2 linked regions of the Homo sapiens genome follow. The protein of the gene in region 1 interacts with the protein of each later gene in a pairwise test. Each region holds a gene or a part of one and is shown in the gene's direction. Other genes may lie near its edges.

Region 1 (5,508 bases):
ACCTGCTTTTCAGGATTGCTGTGATTGAATGAGAAAACCTGTAAAGACCCTTAAAGTGTAGGACACTCAGAAGGTGCTTAGGGGAAAAGATGGATTATTTTATCATTGTTGTTGTTACTATTATTATTAATAATTATTAGGAGAGTGTCTTAGTTTGGGCTGCTACAACAAATTCCATAGACTGGGTGGCTTAGACAACTGAAATTTATTTCTCACAGTTCTGGAGGGTGTGAAGTCCAAGATCAGGGCAGCAGTACACTTTGTGTCTGTCGAGGGCCCACTTCCTGGTTTGTAGATGTCCATCTTCTCCTGATATCCTCACATGGTGGAAAGTAAAGGGAGAGAAAACAAGCTTTCTAATATCTTTTTATAAGGGCATTAATCCCATTCAAGAGGGCTCTGCCCTTGGGACCAAATTACCTCCCAAAGGCCCCACCTCTTAATACCATCATATTGGGTGTTAGGAGTTCAACACAGGAATTTGGGGAGACACAAACATTTAGTCCGTAGCAGAAAGTTTTCTTGAGGTTTGTTTTTAGAAAGCAAAACTAAATTTCATTATTCACTCTTCAAATATTTTACTGTTACTTTGAGGCTTTGTAATAATTAGATCTATAGTAGACTCATAGATCTTTTCTTAAAGGATAGAAAAAGAAAACCTTCAAAGATAGACAGTATGTTATATTATATGGAAGCATTAGAGTTCTCCATCAAACTTGCTCCAACACCTTGGGAGAAGTTGAAGTTTCTGGCTGGAAATAGTTCTAGCAGATGGGTTGCATCTCCTTGTTGCTGCTCTTTGCTTAGTTTGCAGTGTTTCAAAAGATAATATATATTGTCATATAAAATAATTCCTAAAATAATGTATATACTAAGGGTCACAATTCAATTTGGTTAGAGATGGGAGTTTAAGGAGTGATTATTCATTTTTAAAATTTCCTCTCGGTTATTGTATTGCTATGGCTGACAAAAGGAAGGGAACACAGTGGAAGGAAGGGAACAGAATTTAGGCCCCAGGAGGCGGAAGGTCCAAAACCTAGACCCCAGAACCATGAAGAAAAGCCAAAACTGTTAAGTCTCTAAGAACAGTTTTCTATATTCAAACACTAACAGGAATTTTTAATGAAAATACAGCAATATCTGAATAAAATGCAGATATGTAAGTCTAGGAAAACAACTATAAAATTTATCCATTTCTTTGTAAGTTAGATTTCTTAACTGATTTCTCGAAATTTAACTCTTAAGTACAAGAGGTTGGATAAAACAGGAAAAATTGATCTATGTGCAGAAAAAGAAATTTAATTAAAATTTATGTTTTAATTTCCTCAACATTTTCCAGTTTGATTCAGATGATGGTACCAGGAAAATCAAACAATTGCAAGACCATTTTTGTAATTTCTTAACATACTAAAGAATTTGCCAAGATGTTGAAAGGAACTTTAAGAAAATACAAGTTAAGCATGTTAAGAACATTATGTATAGTATGATCCCATTTTTATTAAAATAACAAAAACAGAAGGTAGGAAAATGCGTGGTATAGAAATGAAAAGAGTGGCCAGGAGCGGTGGCTCACACCTGTAATCCTAGCACAGGCTGAGGCGGGTGGATCACTTGAGGTCAGGAGTTCGAGACCAGCTTAGCCAACATGGTGAAAGGCATCTCTACTAAAAATACAAACATTAACCAGGTTTGGTGGCACACACCTGTAATCCCAGCTACTCAGGAGGCTGAGGCAGGAGAATCGCTTGAACCCAGGAGGTGGAGGTTGCAGCAAGCCGAGATTGCACCACTGTATTCCAGCCTAGGCGACAGCAAGACTTCATCTTAAAAAAAAGAAATGAAAAAGTCTTAAATACTGTATGTGAAATTGGGGAAGAGGACTGAGAATTTCTACTTTCTGCATCTTAGTATTGCTTGAATTGCTTTTTATGTGTTTGTTTTACAATGAACACATATTGCTTTTTTTTAGAGGTATTTATTTTCTTCCAGTCAATTGGATCACTCATAAATTACTGCAGATAGGAATTTTTCTTGCTTGTTCTTTAAAAATAGATTTAATGCAGTTTTATAAATTTCTTTATTTCAGTGTTTCATAACTGTTTCTTTGATGATGCTTTTTTTTGATGATGCTTTTTAAACCCAGTTTTTTAGTAGAAAGCTTGCCATCATACACATGAATATGCATGTTTAATAATAATAGCTGCTCTTTATTTAAGCAATCACTATGTGCCAGACCATATTCTAAGCATTTGATATATATTAACCCATTTAACCGTTATAACAACACTCTGAGTAGTCCAGTTTACAAATGAAGAAATGAAGCATAGGAAGTTTAAGAAACTTTCCTCACGTACAGCCTGTATGCATATCGAATTCATATAAGAATGCTCCCTGCACTTGAATAACACTGTTATGTTCCTTCTCAATCTTCTCTTCTCAATGCAAAATGATCCCAGTTTCCATTTCTATTCTTTTGCTTAGGAATTATCAACATGAAGTTTATATGTTGGGGGGATACGTGGATGCATATTTCCTAATTTGTTCCCATAAAGGGCTTACAATCTAGTTAGAGAAATAGGACACGTAAATTTAACATCGATAAAGACATGGAGTGTTCTGTAATAGTACATGCCTAGGCTCTGATGAATAATGTGCATGGCAGGGCTGCCAAGATCAGGATAGATTTACTTTGTAGGAAAACAAGGTTCCCCGCGGATGATGAGTAGGCTCTGTTTAACACAGTGACCAGCAGACTTGCTCTGAAACCCAGCTCTCAATCCAATTTCACCAAGAAACATTAGAAGGCTATTTCTATGTACCCACTTTTCAAATATGACCCGATATTAACATTTTAATGGATACAAGTCTCGCTCTGTTGCCCAGGTTAGAGGGCAGTGGTGCAGCCAGGCGCGGTGGCTCACACCTGTAATCCCAGCACTTTGGGAGGCCGAGGTGGGCAGATCACTTGAGGTCAGGAGTTCGAGAACAGCCTGACCAACATGAAGAAACCCCGTCTCTACTAAAAATACAAAATTAGCTGGGCGTGTTGGCGCGTGCCTGTAATCCCGGCTATTTGGGAGGCTGAGGCAGGAGAATCACTTGAACCTAGGAGGCAGAGGTTGCAGTGAGCCAAGATTGTGCCGTTGCACTCCAGCCTGGGCAACAAGAGTGAAACTCCATCTCAAAAAAATAAAAAATAAAAAAGATTGCAGTGGTGCGATCTCGGCTCGCTGCAACCTCTGCCTCTTGGGCTCAAGCAATTCTCGTGCCTCAGCCTTTCGAGTAGCTGTGGTTACAGGTGCCTGCCACCATGTCCGGCTAATTTTTGTATTTTTAGTGGAGACAGGGTTTCACCATGTTGGCCAGGCTAGTTTCAAATTCCTGACCTCAGGTGATCCTCCTGCCTCGGCCTCCAAAGGGCTGGGATTACAGGCATGAGCCACCATGCCCAGTCTATTTTTTTTTTAAGACAGAGTCTCGCTGTCACCCAGGCTGGAGTGCAGTGGCACAATTTCAGCTCACTGCAACCTCTGCCTCCTGGGTTCAAGTGATTCTTGCACCTCACCCTCCTGAGTAGCTGTGATTACAAGCATGTGCTACCACCCCTGGCTAATTTTTGTATTTTTAGTAGAGCTGGGGTTTCACCATGTTGGCCAGGGTAGTCTTAAACTCCTGGCCTCAAGCGATCCACCTACCTTGGCCTCCCAAAGTGCTGGGATTACAGTCATGAGCCACTGCACCCATTGGCTTCTTTCTTTTTTGATAGAAAAATGCCAGAGATTTCAGAGTATTCATTATTAGTCCATGATTATTTTTGTTTTCAATGAAGAAAAAAGAAAAGAAAAAAAATCATAACTTTTTTTCCCCCGGCTGGCCTTAAGGATTTTAAAAGTTTGCTCCCATATGTATTATGGAAAGCAAGGAAAAATATAGTGTGGAAGCTAAGCTAAATAAAGGTCAGTGAGTAAACTTTCGATATGAGCAGAGCTTTTTAGAGCAGGGATTAGCAAACTTTTTCTGTATGTGGTGAGAGTAAAATCGAGGCTCCGTGGGCCACATACGGTCTCTGCTGCAGCAATTCAACACTGCTGTTGTAGTATGAAAGCAGCCATAGATGATGTAGAAAGGAACATGCATGGCTTTGTTCCAGTAAAACTTTATTTACAAAAGCAGTCAGCAGGCCATAGTTTGCCAGCCTCCTCTGGAAAGAACAGTTAGAGAGAAAGGTAGTGCCTTGAATGCCAGTCTAAGAAACGTATATTTTATTTCCTCAATGACAGAGGATTTTAAAAAATCACTTTTATCACCCTGGAGAACCCAGTTTATGTGTGTAATATGCCCTCTTTTGTCATCAGATTTCATCTAACTTACTATTAAAAGTTGCCAAGAAAGCTAAGCTGTGGCCTCAAGCAGATGGCTGAAAAAATAACGCAGTAAGATTTGCTTTCCAATGCCTTAAGAGTTTGCATTTGTGTACTTTGAGTCAGTTGGGCTAAGAGGGAAATAGCAGTTTGTTCTTCGTACTCTGATAGATGGGATGATGGGCTCCATGGGTAAGGGAGGTTAGGACAAGCCACTGAATACAGTTGGGGGAAATGTCTGCAAGTCCATATTATTTTTTGTCTGATTTGCAAGACCTGTTTCTTGTAGATTTGATCATAACCCTGAGAAATATTGGCAGACTAGTCTGTCAGGGAGTAATATTCTACCCAAACTCACACAGGAACATTTTGAATGCTGCTGAGAGTCCAAAGTCAATAGGGTTGCCAGGATGAGCAAATAAAAATCTAGTTAAATCCAGGACACCCAGTTAAATTGGAATTTGCTCAACAAAAAAAGTAAGTATAATTATATCCCATTCACTATTTGGGACATTCATAAACTAAAAAATTATTTGTTGTTTATCTGAAATTCAAACTTAGCTGGGAATCCTGTATTATACCTGGCAATCCTAAAAATGAAGATAAATGAATAGTTTCTTGCACTACATAAATTACATCATTATGTCACTTGATTAGTACCCTTCACCAATGATTTTTTTTTTAATTGTGGGAGTCTAATGACAGTTGAATCTCATTACTTCCAACCTCACTGTTTTAGAATTTTGATTATTTATGCAAGAGCTATGCTAAAGTGCACTTTATTCTCTTCATGAATTTAGGAAGCCTATTTGTCATTGATAGTACAAATAAAACTGAAAGAAAACTATTTATCTCCTTGGGATACTACAAATAGTATAATTACCTTTTAACCAGAAGCTATCATTATTTAGAATCTGCTTTTCATTTAATAATTATAGATCATTCACAGTTGTTCATTGAAATAAGTCAAGACTTTACCAGACAGAGTCAGGTGCAGCCACCTAAGTCCTGATGGCCCGCTTTGCGTCCCATCTGCTCCAGTTCACAGTGTGTCTTGCCAGTCTCTCCTATACCATTGTGTTTGTTTTGTTCCTTATCCGCTCTAGAGCCTCACACAATGCTTGCTACTGAGAAGGCACACTGTAAA
Region 2 (4,504 bases), on another chromosome or scaffold:
GGAGCCAGGGCCCAGACAGGGTTAGTCACACCCTCACCTCAGGCCGCAGGGACAGGCCTCTGGGACTTCCAAGACATGTACCACCTGTCCTGCCCCCAACCCCTGCCAGCCTTCAGCAGGAGGGTTCATGCTGAGCATCAGGAGGGGGCAGAAGAATTGAACGTGGCCACTGTCCATGAAGAAGTTAGAGAAGAGTACACACAACACACATGCACACAAGAATAGGACACGTGCACACACACACACACATGCATACAAGATTAGGAAACACAAGTGCACACACAACCAGTCAGAAATGAGCTCTGAGCTTTTACACATATTAACTCATTTCATCCTCAAACAGTCTTTAGAGAGGTATAATTAGTGTTCCCGTTTTAAAGGTGAGGGAACTAAGGCACAGAGGAGCTATGTAACTCACCCAAAGGCACCCAGCTACTGGCATGTGAGGCCATGATTTCTCCCCAGCAGCCCCACCCACAGCCCGTGCCTTTAACCACCTGCCTGACCCCTCCCAGCCAAGTGGCTCCGTCCCTACATCAGAAAGGTCAAGGAAGAGGCCGCCTAGGGAGCAGTACAAGGCAGCATTACAACCTGGCATTTTCCTGTTGCAGACTGCATTTTGGTGGCAAGAGAAGCTTTGGAGGTGCTTAACGTTTAGTTTGCATTTATCCTACCGCTGAAAAGCAGGGACCCTTAGGACCATAAGTCTAGGACTTTTCATAGCACCCTAGACTGCTGGGGATGAAAGGGGCTTGGAGCTGAGCTGGTGCAGCAGCTCCTGTTAGAGAAGCCACCCAGAGAGGCCCAGGGACCTCCTATGTCCCAGCGCCAGTTAGGGGCAGACGTGGGACCAGCTCCCCTCGGCTGCAGCGGCCTCCATATCAGCTCCCTGGAAGGGAGCAGATGCCAAGTCAGGTTCTGAGCAACACCCTCAAGGCCCAGCCCTGGCAATCCCTTCCCACCTGTGATTAGGTCTGGGGTTCAACAAAAATAGGACTCAAAATCTGGATCTTCTCGCCTTGCTTCACTTTGGGCTGGTTCAGTTTTGTTTCGAGGTAAATCATTCGAGGTTTTTCAGGGATCCTCAGATGCATGTCTGCGTGAAGCCGTCCTGGCTTCCCCTTCGGCTGCCCCCTGGGCAAGAGCCTGGGCCATACCTGTGCCATTCCTGAGCTCTGTCTCTAGCTGCCCTATGTCCAGTCATTGGCGATGGGTCTTATTCAAGCCCCCTTTCCCCCAACCCACACTAGATTGTAAGCCCTCAGGGTGGGGACCGCTTCTCACTCATCCTTATATGCTTAGGAGTGTTCAGCACAAAGTCACTCAGGAGATGGCAGGCAGCGGGGAGAGGGCAGAGACAGAGGAGAGGCTTCTGTCCAGAGGGTTCCTACTTAGGATCATCCAAATCATCAGCAAATGTTGGAAAGATGGTCTGGGGGCCTCAGGCTGGCTACTCTTCCTCCCCATCAGGGCAAAACTCCCCGGGGGCTTGTGTCTCCCTGTGGTTGGGGACAGGCCTGGGTGTATCTGTCCCAGCCTTGACTGACCACAAGGGGAGACTTGGCCCTCCCGACCACAGGAGAAGAGGGATTTGAATTCACCTCGGCCCAAATTGCAGATGCTGGCCTGCGAGCCCTGAGGCCATCTGCAAGGCTCCTGGGCTGACATAACTGTCACCCAGCTCTTCATCCTCCTTCCCCGGGGCTGAAGGGGTGCCTGCAGGGTCTTCTGCCCTCCCTCCACCTGGGCCCTACTGCTGGCACGGAGCTTCATTTCTGTTGGCAGCCAGTGTTTGCTTAGTGATTACTGAATGCCGTTTGCTGGGTGCTTATGATGTGCTCAGCACTGTTCTAAGTGCTTTACACAATTGACTTATTTACTCCTACAACCTGCCCATAAGGGAAGTGCTGCCATGGTCTCCCTTTTATAGCTGAGAAAACTGAGGCACAGATAGGTCCATGGTCACACAGTTAACATAAGGCAGAGTCAGGACCAGAATCCAGGCGGACTGGCTCCAGAGCCCGGCTCCTGGACCGAGCAGCCTTGAGTAGGGACCTGGTGCAGACCCGCCTGCCGTGGACTCACTATAGGATGGGTCAGGAGGCCCGTTGTCACCTACAAAATGTAGCCCACCACCCAGGAAACGCTCCCAGAACCAGGCAGAAAATACTGTCTCCTATTCACAGGGTGGCTGTGCCTGGCGTGAGTGTCTTGGCGGGTGCCTGCATGTCTGTGCAGGAGTGCCACCCCCATCTGTGGACTCGGAAAGCATGATCCCCACAAAAGCAACCCCTCAGAGTCTCAGCTCAGCCAATCCCTGTTATCCTGTGACAGGCAGGGCCATGTTTCAAAACCATGTTAAAGATGAGCAAGAGGCTAAGGAAGTTTCCCATGCTGGCAGAGGCAGGACAGGAACACATGTCCCCTGACTCTTGACATTGAGAATGCACCCCCTTCCACCCACCTGGCCTCTTGTCCCAGCCAGTGTGGTCCCAGCTATGCAGCTCTCTGGGACATCTCTGGAAAGCTCATTGTTCTCTGTCTGGGCAGTAAGACGGAGTGAGGCTCTGACTGCCGAGGCAGACAGACCTGCCTCCTGCTCTTCCTCCCCTCAATTATTTGTGCTGCCTGAAACAAGTTCCTGAGCCTCCCTGAGCCTCAGTTCCCTCCTCTGTAAAGTGGGAATGATAACTGAATCTACTTCCTGGGGTTCTTGTGAGGACCAGAGGCCCATCACCCGAGGAAAGGCCTGACAGCAGCAATGGGTGTATGGTAGGCATCCATTAATAGGAACTGCTGCTGCTGCTGCTGCCTTATAAAAGGAAAAATCACAGTTTCAAAAACCTCTTAAGATTGCATGATTTGTCATCTGAGAGCAGAGATTGTGATCTCCATTGACAAAGATGGAAGCTGGGGCCCAGGGAGGCACACAGACTTGTCTGAAGACACACAGCTGCTTCATAGCAGAGCCGGGCCCAGCCTCCTGGTTCCCCTGCCCCATCTTTATGTCAGTCCCTGGATCCACTCCCTCACCTGGTCAGGTGTCCAGAGGTTCCAGGAGAGTGTTGTGGAAAAGTAGGAAGAGGCAGACGCCCATGGAGGGTGTTGAAAGCCACCCCAGCTGCTCTGCTGCTTCAGGGCAGGGGATCTTAAGCCCTGTGGAACTGTAGGCTGGTGAAGCTTGTGGACTTCTGCTCAGAATAATGTTCTTACATGCACCAGACAAAATAGCTTAGGGTTACAAATGAAATATATTATATGGAAACACAGCGAAAATATTTTTTAAAAAAGACTACAGTAGCATTAGGCATGCTTCTTTATTAGCACATTAAATGACAAGCTCTAGTGGCAGATCTAATGTCTACCATAATTTTATTTTTACTTTTATTATTATTATTATTATTATTATTATTATTATTATTATTATTTTGAGATAGTCTTGCTCTGTCACCCAAACTGGAGTTCAGTGGTGCGATCACTTCAGTCTTCAACTCCTGGGCTCAAGCGATCCTCCTGCCTCAATGTCCTGAGTAGCTGGGACGACAGGCGTGTGCCACTGTGCCTGGCTAATTTTTTTTTTATTTTTTTAGAGATGGGACCTCCCTGTGTGGCCCAGGCTGGTCTTGAACTCCTGACCTCAAGCGATTCTCCTGCCTTGACCTCCTGAAGTGCTAAGATTACAGGTGTGAGCCACTGCACCTGGCTAGCATGGTTTTAAATTTGTGCTCAATTTAAATGGTATTAGGATAAATTATTTACAGGTAAATTTATGATATGATCTTGGTCAGTATTAATGAAAAATTATGTTGCCTACCTTCATACTTAAAGGAAATAGCAAATTTTAGTTAGAAGTTGGTGACAATTAATATATAATAATTTTTCCATCCAAGTTTACTGTAGACCGATGGCCCGAGTTCAGGGTTTCCTCCACATCCACTCATATCTTGGGCTCAGCAAAGAAGATCACAGGGCACCCACTCTATCTTAGGGGCCCATTCACTTGTCTCTCAGTCCTGCCCTCAGAGATCAAGGTTTGGTGTTCATTCATTCATTCATTCAGCAAACACTGAGCACTGCCTCCGTGCCAGGCTATGATACACAGTGAGGTCCAAGGTCAGATGAGATGAGGTCCTGCCCTCAAGCTGTTCACCATGCTTCAGGGAGAGCATAAGAAGAACTGCTCCAAGATGCAAAATGTAGACAAGCATAGGGACATGCTCACCCTTCCTGGTCATCAAACACCCAGCGATGGTGAGGTTGGGGTTAGATGGTCACTCCTGGCTAGTGACACTGTCCATTGCCTAATCCTTTTGAAAAGAAGTATGGCACTGCATCACATTGGTCATGGAAATTCCAGAGTTCCCTTTCCCAGCACTCTCACTCTGCCAGTTTTTCCCGAGGAAATCATTCAGCAGGAGGGACAAAGGGTGGAGGGCAGAAGTCATCCCTGCTCTTCCTGAGTCTGTGCTCTCCCCAGGGAAGGGGCTGTGTTGTGTTCAGCTTG

What was found.
Region 2: the proteins of SETD7 (region 1) and STEAP3 interact in a two-hybrid assay, tested with the Homo sapiens proteins (one large-scale study listed by BioGRID and IntAct).

Annotation. Positions count from the first base shown.
Region 1 is NC_000004.12:139,534,668-139,540,175, reverse strand, and holds part of SETD7 (histone-lysine N-methyltransferase SETD7), read left to right. Parts: intron 1-5,508. UniProt on the Homo sapiens protein: Histone methyltransferase that specifically monomethylates 'Lys-4' of histone H3. H3 'Lys-4' methylation represents a specific tag for epigenetic transcriptional activation.
Region 2 is NC_000002.12:119,240,834-119,245,337, forward strand, and holds part of STEAP3 (metalloreductase STEAP3), read left to right. Parts: intron 1-3,588; exon of another isoform or gene 3,589-4,504.